Linked DNA regions of Homo sapiens: region 2 is linked to region 1. Evidence: fine-mapped expression QTL. A gene starts in region 1. The other region holds a variant in brackets. All regions are shown on one strand. Distances are from middle to middle. Region 1 holds the start of EFHD2 (EF-hand domain family member D2). Region 2 overlaps CELA2A (chymotrypsin like elastase 2A).

What was found. PIP is the estimated chance that this variant, and not a neighbour inherited with it, causes the effect. A credible set is the group of variants that fine-mapping cannot tell apart.
Region 2: its variant is the best candidate, but not a certain one, in a credible set for the expression of EFHD2 in lung (TOPMed, PIP 0.82).

What each region holds. Positions count from the first base shown.
Region 1 is chr1:15,407,274-15,411,653 of GRCh38, reverse strand. EFHD2 (EF-hand domain family member D2) reads right to left here and starts at 1,766. Exons shown (of 4, transcript NM_024329.6): 1 at 1,375-1,766. The coding sequence starts at 1,682. It overlaps EFHD2-AS1 (EFHD2 antisense RNA 1), which reads left to right. Exons shown (of 4, transcript NR_183705.1): 2 at 3,747-3,817. RefSeq lists an enhancer at 1,144-2,006 and a silencer at 1,519-2,118.
Region 2 is chr1:15,462,433-15,466,817 of GRCh38, reverse strand. It overlaps CELA2A (chymotrypsin like elastase 2A), which reads right to left. Exons shown (of 8, transcript NM_033440.3): 4 at 3,957-4,085; 5 at 3,296-3,432; 6 at 674-819. It overlaps LOC105376767 (a long non-coding RNA gene), which reads left to right. Exons shown (of 3, transcript XR_002958256.2): 2 at 1,946-2,736; 3 at 3,070-3,303. Among named protein-coding and RNA genes, the nearest start is that of CELA2A, 7.9 kb to the right of the region's middle. The variant T/C (reference allele first, on the strand shown) is at 2,339.

The sequences.
Region 1 (4,380 bases):
TTCCAGAACCACTCCAGACCAGCACCCAGATCGTGGAACGAGGCTGTTCCCTCTCCAGGAGCCAGGGGCAGGGGGACAGGGAACAGGAGGTGGGGAAAGCTACCAAAGGGAGGGGCACTGGCACCTTCCCCATCCCCTGGGCACACACATGGCTGGGAGAGAGTGGCTGTGCATCTTAGACCCAACAGAGTGGGACCCAGGGATGGGCCGGAGGGAGCTGGGCCCTCTCTCCCTAGCCCCTCCACAGAGACATTAAGATTGTTTTTGTGGGGGGACAGGGGGATGAGCCCACACGCCTGGGGGTGCCCATCCACCCTGGTGAGGGCACACAGTGTGGATCTGATGGAATAAAGGGTAGGGGTGGGGGTAACAGGGCAAGTCACATAGGAAGGGGCCCCTTTTGACCAGGGTGGGTGTGGGACATGGGGGGTCCCTGTGGGGAGGGAAGGGGATATACGGAGTGGGGAGGAGAGATGGGGGGCCTTGCGACAGAAGCAGGGGAGCGGTGACTGCAAGCTGCTGGGTGCACGGGGGTGGGGCGGGCAGGAGCGGGAGGGAGGCCTTCCAAACCCGGAGGGGACTCGGCCCACAGGGACGACTGGAGTGAGGTTTACACCAGAGGGGCAACAGGGGCCGAGGGGTCCCTTCCTAAGGAGACCACTTGTGAGTGAAGGATTTGGGTCCTGGCTAATGAGTGGGTGGGGATGGAAAGGGCAAGTCTTTGCCCCCAGTTTGCTGGTAGACGCTAAGTAACTGGAGAGGAAGTTGGGGGGATCCCTGCCCAGAACCCACCTTGAGGGAGACCTGAGATCGCAGAGGAAACGAAAAGACCTTAAGGGAGGGAATGTGGTTGGCATGTGGTGTCGAGGGGCACTGGGGTGGGTATCTTTGGCCAGCGTGTGTTGGGGTGGGGGTGGGGAACGCGAGTAGCTGGGATCGGGGAAGGAAGGCCGCTGGGTCCTCAGCCTCGGTGTGTGCGGTGTGGGGTGGTGGAGAAGCCCCACTAACAGCGCGGAGGGCCCGGGACCCACACGTGTGGTGGTGGGGGTGGGGCTCGCGGGGCCTGGCGATTATCTGGAAGGAAGCCTGGGGTCCCCCACTCTGTGGACGCGTCTATGGTGTACCGGAGGCAGCACAAATACGAGTCTCCGCCGCGTGCCAGGGGCCGGGGGTCCCCCAGACTAACGTGCGCGGTGAGATGCCGGGTCTCGATCTGGAAGGGGCCGCCGGGTCCCCAACCCCGGTGCGTCTGGGTTCGGGGAAGCTTGGCTGACGGCAGGCTCCCGGGGCGGAGCGGGATCCGGGGATCGGGGGGTTCGGGGCCCGAGACCGGGTCGCGGGGCGGGCGGGGGGCCGGGTCGCGCGGGCACTTACTGCTTGAACATCTTCTCCATGTCCTTGATCTGCTTCCTGGAGAACTCCTTGAACTCGGTGTAGGGGTTGAAGACGCGGCGGCTGGGCGACTGGGGCTCGCCGATGCCCTGGTTGAGGTCTGCGCGCCGCAGCAGCTTGGCGCTCAGCTCGCAGTCCGCGCTGCCCAGCGCCTCGGCCGCCTCGTCGGGTGCCCCCGCCGCCGCCGCCGCTGCCCCGTTCAGCCCGGGCTGCTCCGGGGTCTCGCCGCCGCCCTCGCCCTCCATCTGCAGCCGCCGGCTCAGCTTGGTGGCCAGCTCGTCCGTGGCCATGGTGGCCCGCGCGGCACTCGCCTTGGCCGGGCCCCTGCTCTCAGCGCAGCGCCGCCGGCCGCGCTCTTCCTCTTCCTGACACTCCCCGGGCCAGGCACCGCCCCCGAAGGTGGGACTTGGGCCCTGGCGGGGACCGCGCGCCCCGCCCCCGCCCCCGGGCCCGCGCGGCGTGCGCGTGATCGCTCCCGGCCGCCGGGGGTCGAGTGTACTCTGCGCGCCCCGCCCGCCGTCGTCTGCCCCCCGCGAGGCTGGGGAGCGCGGCCGAAAGCCATGCCCCTCTTCGTGCCCACTGTAGCAGCTGAGCGGGAGGGGTCCTGCTGGGGGCCGGGGCCGGGCGGGAAAGAAGAGGGCTCCTCCCCCGCGGCTTGGGTGAGGAGCGGGGCTTGCCGGGGGGCGGGGAAGCGAGGGGGGGCGCCGCCCCACCCCCTTCTCCGGAATCCCCACGCCGTGAAGTCATAATCCTGTGTCTGTGACACCCTGTCGGTTGCTATGGAAACGACTCGCTGTTAAACACTGGCGTTCTCAATGAGGGTTGCAGGGGTTCCGAGGCGGACCTGGGGAGCAGAAACCCCTGTTTAGGGTGAACCGTGGCGGGCGCCGATGGCCTCTTGGAAGAGGACAGACTAGCAGCTGCGAGGGAGATGGGACTGGGTTTCACCCCTGAAAGGGCCCCTGGAGACAGCGGGTGAGGGACAGGGGAAGGGGCTGGTGGTCCTCTCTCCCGAGGCCCCGCACCATCACACGGATGACTTGGCACAATAGCTGCTGGGCCAGTGTTGTCGCCTGTGACTGTACTTTAGGGAAACTGACAGGGAGATCATGATGTCGCCATTTTGATGGGGTCCCCAGAGGAGAGATGTCCTCCCCAACGGCTCCTGGACAGGACTGGGGAAAGAGTTCAGATAAGTATCTCTGTGGTCTGGGCTGTCACCTTACAACTGCACAACTCTGGACCTCCAGCATCAGAACCACTGGGGCCTAGGTTAATAATACAGATTTTCAGGCTCCAATTTGGACAGACGAAACTGATCTCTGGGGTGGGACCCAGGAATCTACGTGTAAACAAGCACCCAGGGGAGTTCTGCTCACTGAAATTTGAGAATCCCTGATTTAGAAGGAGGACTATGCTCTGTGCATGTTCTCTGAAATGTTGGGTCAATCAGGACCTGTCTACTGAAACTGCTCCAACCAGCCAAGGTGCAGAGAAAAGATGCGTGCAGGGCCGAAAACCAGGGTGCTCTGGAGGCAGGGAGCCCTCGAGAATGTAAAGCCAGCAAGCTGTTACAGAGTGATTTGCACAGAACAGACACTCAGTTGATATTTGTCAATTTGCTGTGTTTAAGAACCTTGCTGAATTAATTTAAAAGGTATTTTTAAAAGAATGAAATTGAGGAAAAAACCTTCAAGGTTCAGAAAATGTGAAGTTCTCATTTACTTGTTTATGAAATTGTTTTTGAGTCCAATAAAGATGCTCAGCTAAAATGGTTTTTTTGTTTTAAATCTCAGAATTAAGTTTCTCTTAGTTTTGGGCAGTTCGGTCCAGCTACTTGCAAAAGACAGGCTTCCATATCTCCTGTATGCAGCCCTGAAGGACCCAACAGAAGTAAAATAGTTATTTAAGGAATGCAAAGGACTAGGGACAGGATGCAGATTAAAATGTTTAAGATGATGTCTGCAGATGATGTTTGTAGATGCTTAAGTTTGTTGAATTCTTAGTCTTCCTCACAAAGCAGCTAATTACTTTCAAGACTCTAGTGAGCCTCAATTTACTCCAATTTATGATTTCCAATGGTTCTGCATAAAACTGGGTTGCCGTTTTATGAAATTGTTTGCATCTGCTTGACGTGGGCGCAAACTTCACAGTGAGGAGATAATGTGAGGGTTTTGCCTTCTTGCAAAACAACTTACATATATATGTGAAAAAACTGGGGTTGGGGTTTGAATTATGTGGACTGCCTGTGCGTAGTAAGCTCTCTGGTCAGTTACCTATTTGGCTTTGTGTGGACACAGCTCTTAGGAGGGAGGGTGGTGGAATTCCTGCTCATTACCTATAGTATCTTGCAGGAGGGCTGCTGAACGCCGGAGCCTTACAACTGTTAAACTCAGGCAGAGCTCGGGAAATGCTGCCCGGATGGGTGAGTCCTTTTAACACCTCTTGGGTTGATTTTTCTCACAGGTTTTCGGGGTTTGCAGAGCTCTGAGACTGTGACCACAGGGTGAGACCTCAAGCTGCCCAGTACTGTGGCCCCATTTCAGAGGCCTTGGGCCTGGGCCAGAGATGGACGCTGGGGCTGCCTTTTACTCCAAGTTTTTTTCTTCATTGGTCATTGGTCATTGGGCTCCAAGAAAAGCACTTTTTCAGGAATCAAAGAAGCAGTGATGGAACGAAAAGCAGAGAAAGCTGATGAGCCCTGAATGGAGGTGAAACTTCCAGGAAATATCACTTGCCTCTTGATTAGGGGAAATCACTTTTGAATGACCCCGAGTTTTGTGCCCCAAGCATAGATTCTGGCAGAAAGAAACAGTCTGGACTGATGACACACTACAACATTTGGTCATGTGGAAAGAATGATCTTCAGGAAAAATCACACCCTTGGCAAAGGCTTTTTACAGAGGCAAGGGCGAGCCGGCCAATTCTGACAATATTCCAGTGGCAAGGGAGCCAGGCTGACTCAGTCATCATTACTTGTGTTTCGTC
Region 2 (4,385 bases), 55 kb before region 1:
GACACGCTGCGCCATTGATGAGACTAATTCAACAGAAAAACCAGAAGTCATCGTAGAAAGGCCCTAAGCCAGGGAATACTTTCCTTTGGTTCCCTTCCAGCATAGAGGAAAGGATACATAGTGACAGTCACGAGAGACCTTGATGAGACCCAGGGAAGGACTTCCCAGCAGTGAGATGGGTGGATACTACAAGGAGAATCTCAAAACATCTCAAAACAAGAACAAAAAAGAACCAAGATCAAGTTTTTTTGTTTTTTTTTTTGAGTTTCGCTCTGTCACCCAGGCTGGATTGCAGCGGTGTGATCTCAGCTCACTGCAACCTCCGCCTCATGGGTTCAAGTGATTCTCCTGCCTCAGCCTCCCGAGTAGCTGTGAGTACAGGCGCCTGCCACCATGCCCGGCTAATTTTTTTAGTTTTAGTAGACACAAGGTTTCACCATGTTGGCCAGGCTGGTCTTGAACTGCTGACCTCAAGTGGTCTGCCCGCCTGGCCTCTCAAAGTGCTGGGATTACAGGTGTGAGCCACCGTGCCTGGCCAAAGATATATCTGGAACATGTTTCGGGGTAATTCTGCCAGGAGGTGGGAGGATGGACCTATGGAGGGATGGACCTCTATAGCCTTATCCCCAGCCACATTTTGTCATGGAGCGGAGCCCCTGATTTTGGTACTCACGTTGCAGCTGGAGATCACGCCATCACCCCCAGCACAGATCATACTGGTTTTCACGCTGCTGCCCCACCAGGCAGAGCTGGAGCAGGTGGCATAGTCCACAACCAGCAACCGGCCCTGCTGCAGGACATCAGGAACAGCCCCGTTGGCTGAATGAGATCAGAGAGAAGCCATTAGGGATGCAGGGACTCCTGAGAAAAAGGAAGTGATGGACCCGTCTTAGGTTTCCCCTGTTCCTGTCTTCCATCCATTGCAACATGCGAACAGCCACGTTTGTCTATACTGTGTCCTCACGGTTGATTGGTTCAGCAGTGAACACCTGACTCAAGCTAAGCCAATGAGCTCCCTCCCCTGGGATTCTGAGATGGGGTCTATGAGATTCCGGTTTCAGAGGACATAATTCTGGGAAGCTGTTGGCAATGACTGACATTTTGTTTTATGTGGAGAATGAAGTAGACCCACAAAGAACAGAAATTCTGAGGGAGGGTTTCCTGTGTTTCTTACAGGTTTCCAGCCCCTGATTCTAGCTTGTTCCTGATGCCTGGCTGTATCTCTGCCCTTGGGATAAAACTTTTAAATCCTTATAACAATTTCCCTTTTTTTGCTGAGCTAGCTCCATGGCTTTCTGTCACTTATCTGAAATAAGAAAGTGAGCCTCCTGGCTGTTAGAGCCCCCTCCTTGGGAAAAATATGCTGGTGTGGTGAAGGGAGGGCTTTCATAATGGCCCCCAATGACACAGCCACCATCACCTCCATTACTGTTACCACAGCTATGAGTGGCAAGGATGAGATTAACACAATTCTTCACTTCCGATTGAAGCCTAGGGAAGTTAAGTGTCGGTCGGGCGCGGTGCTCACCCTCTAATCCCAGCGCTTAGGGAGGCCAAGGTGGGCAGATCACTTGAGGTCAAGAGTTTGAGACCAGCCTGGCCAACATGGTGAAACCCCACCTCTACTAAAATACAAAAATTACCCGGGCATGGTGGCACTCGCCTATAATGCCAGCTACTTGGGAGGCTGAGGCAGGAGAATCGCTTGAGCTCGGGAGGCAGAGGTTGCAGTGAGCCGAGATTGCACCACTGCATTCCAGCCAGGGTAACAGAGTAAGATTCTGTCTCAAAAAAAAAAAAAAAAAAAAAAAAAAGGGAAGTTAAGTGTCTGGCTTAAGACCACTAATAAGTAATTAATTAACACTTGCATAACATTTTGCAATGTATGATGCATTTTCACCTTTCACCTCTTTTAGTCTTCACCAACAGTGTTTCCATTTTACAGATGAGGAAACTGAGGTTCGGAAGTGGCTTGCCCAAGGTTTCACCGTGACTGACAGAGCTGGGCCGAAAAGCCAAGCATTTGGAGGCCTCCCCACTCTCACTGTCTCAGATGAAATGCGCCTGCCCCAGGGTTGTCTGGGGAAACAAACAGGAGGTTGTGCTTGTATCTTAATAAGCATGAAATGCCTCTTCCACCACCGCTCACCGCAGGATTTGATGTGTCCTTGTGTTTACAGATAAGCCAGTCAAGAGGGCAATGGGAATTATTTGAGGGTACGTATGTGGATGTACCCCTGGAAAAACATGTCATTATACTTATGGGTTTATGTCATTAGGAAAAAATGTCATAATGTGATTAACACTCATAATCTCATTATGGTCATAAGGTCATTAT[T/C]ACTCATCCCTTCCTAGAATCTTCCAAACCTCTGGTGATTTCACAAGGGAAGGGCGGGAACTCTGTTCCTCTTGGTGGCTACTGTCATTGGATCTCTGACCCTTGGAGTCTATGTCAAAGGAGACCCGCCCTCATTCAGGTTCTGAGCAGCAAGACCTAATGGCACAGGGGACAGCTTTTGCTATGGGGCATGGAGGGTCTGATGAGGGCTCCAGGGGTCTCAGGTCACAGAGGAAAATGCTGTTCTGAACTCTAGCCTTGGGCCACACAGAAGATGTCACATGGTCTCTGTAACTTTCTCTCCATCATAGGGACAGTGACAACAACTAACACAGCACCTACCCCATTCTGGGCTTCCTATGGATTATCTCCTTTAATCCTCGTGACAACTCTGTGATGTAGGTGCTATTATTATGCCTTTTGTTTTTGAGGCGGAGTCTCGCTCTGTCCCCCAGGCTGGAGTGCAGTAGCGAAATCTTGGCTCACTGCAACCTCCATCTCCCAGGTTCAAGTGATTCTCGTGCCTCAGCCTCCTGAGTAGCTGGGACTACAGGTGCACACTGCCACATCCTGCTATTTTTTTTTTTTTTAATATTTTTAGTAGAGACAGAGTTTCTCCGTGTTGGTCAGGCTGGTCTCCTGACCTCAAGTGATCCGCGGGATGGGCCTCCCAAAGTGCTGGGATTACAGGTATGAGCCACTGCGCCCAGCCAAATATTTGCATTTTACAGATGAAAAAAGTGCTGCATGGAGAGACCTAGTAATGTGTCCAAGGTGTCACAGTCATTAAGTGGGAGAGCTGACATTTGATCCCAGGCAGGCGTCAGCCTATGCCATCCCGTCTCTCCAAGGCAGCCACACACCCTGGGATGACAGGTGAGAGGCCCCGGCCAGACAGGGGTGACGTGAATCACCTCCCTTCCCTCCCAGGCCTGGGGGCTCCTGGCTCCCACTTACTCTGCAGCCTTCCCCAGCCCGTGACGTAGCAGGGGTAGTTGTTGGGTAGAATGGTGCCGGCAGGAGGGAGGCAGGCCAGCTGGATCTTGTCGGTGAGGGAGACGGGGTTAGCCAGTTTGAGCAGGGCAATGTCGTTCCTGGGTGAGTGTGGAGGCGAAGCATGAGGACCGGGTTGACTTTTCCTGCCCTGTGGGCTTTGGAGGGCTTGGAGACCTTGTCATCTTCCCTGTACCCTGTTACCCCAGGTTGCTCTGACTGGCAGGGCCCCAGGGCATGTTTGAAAATGCAGAGGGCCTTGTTGAAAGGGGGAAGGCAGGAGAGATTGTGTCCTACTCCAGGGACAGTCACAGGGTTGACAGCACTGTCCCTGTGTCCCCAGGACCTGGCATGAAGTAGATACATGCTCAGCGGACAGGGGCCCTGCAGGTGTAACTGGCAGCAAACCCAGGTCGCTCTGGCAGTCTTTGCTTCACCCTCCCCAGGTCACATCCCCACCCCAGACATCTTTGGAGCTGGTTCCACATCTAAGAGGCCAGAGCTCCTTCCCCCTCCCTGTAGAAGAAGCAGAGGGGGTGTGGTGTGGTTGAGACCCTTGCCTCTGTGAGACCCCCATCTGTTCCCTGACAACCTCACCCCCAAGTGCACCCAGACAGAAACGAACCCTTTGGAGATTTGGTTGGAGTTCCAGTCCTTGTGCACCACAATCTTAGAGACACTGACTGCCAGCGAGCCGGACTCCGCAACGTAGAGGTTGTGCCGGCCCAGCCCCACGCGGTAGGTCCTGGAGGAGCTGGGAGAAAGGGGGCCCAGGGAGAGGGTCACCTCCAGAGGCCTGGCTTTGGATAATGCTGGGGATAGACCCAAGTAACTGGCTGCTGCGTGAGCCACTAGATGGGACTTGGGGATCTTTCCTCCCCTGGGACAATCAGTTAGTTATAATAGGGCCTAAAGTATATAACCTAAGAACTATGATCATATAATAATTGTTACTATACTAACTATAAACTACAATATAAAATAAAAGTTATAATAACACAAACTCTATAGTTCTTATGGAGGGAATGAGATGAACACAGAGAAAACAGGAGTC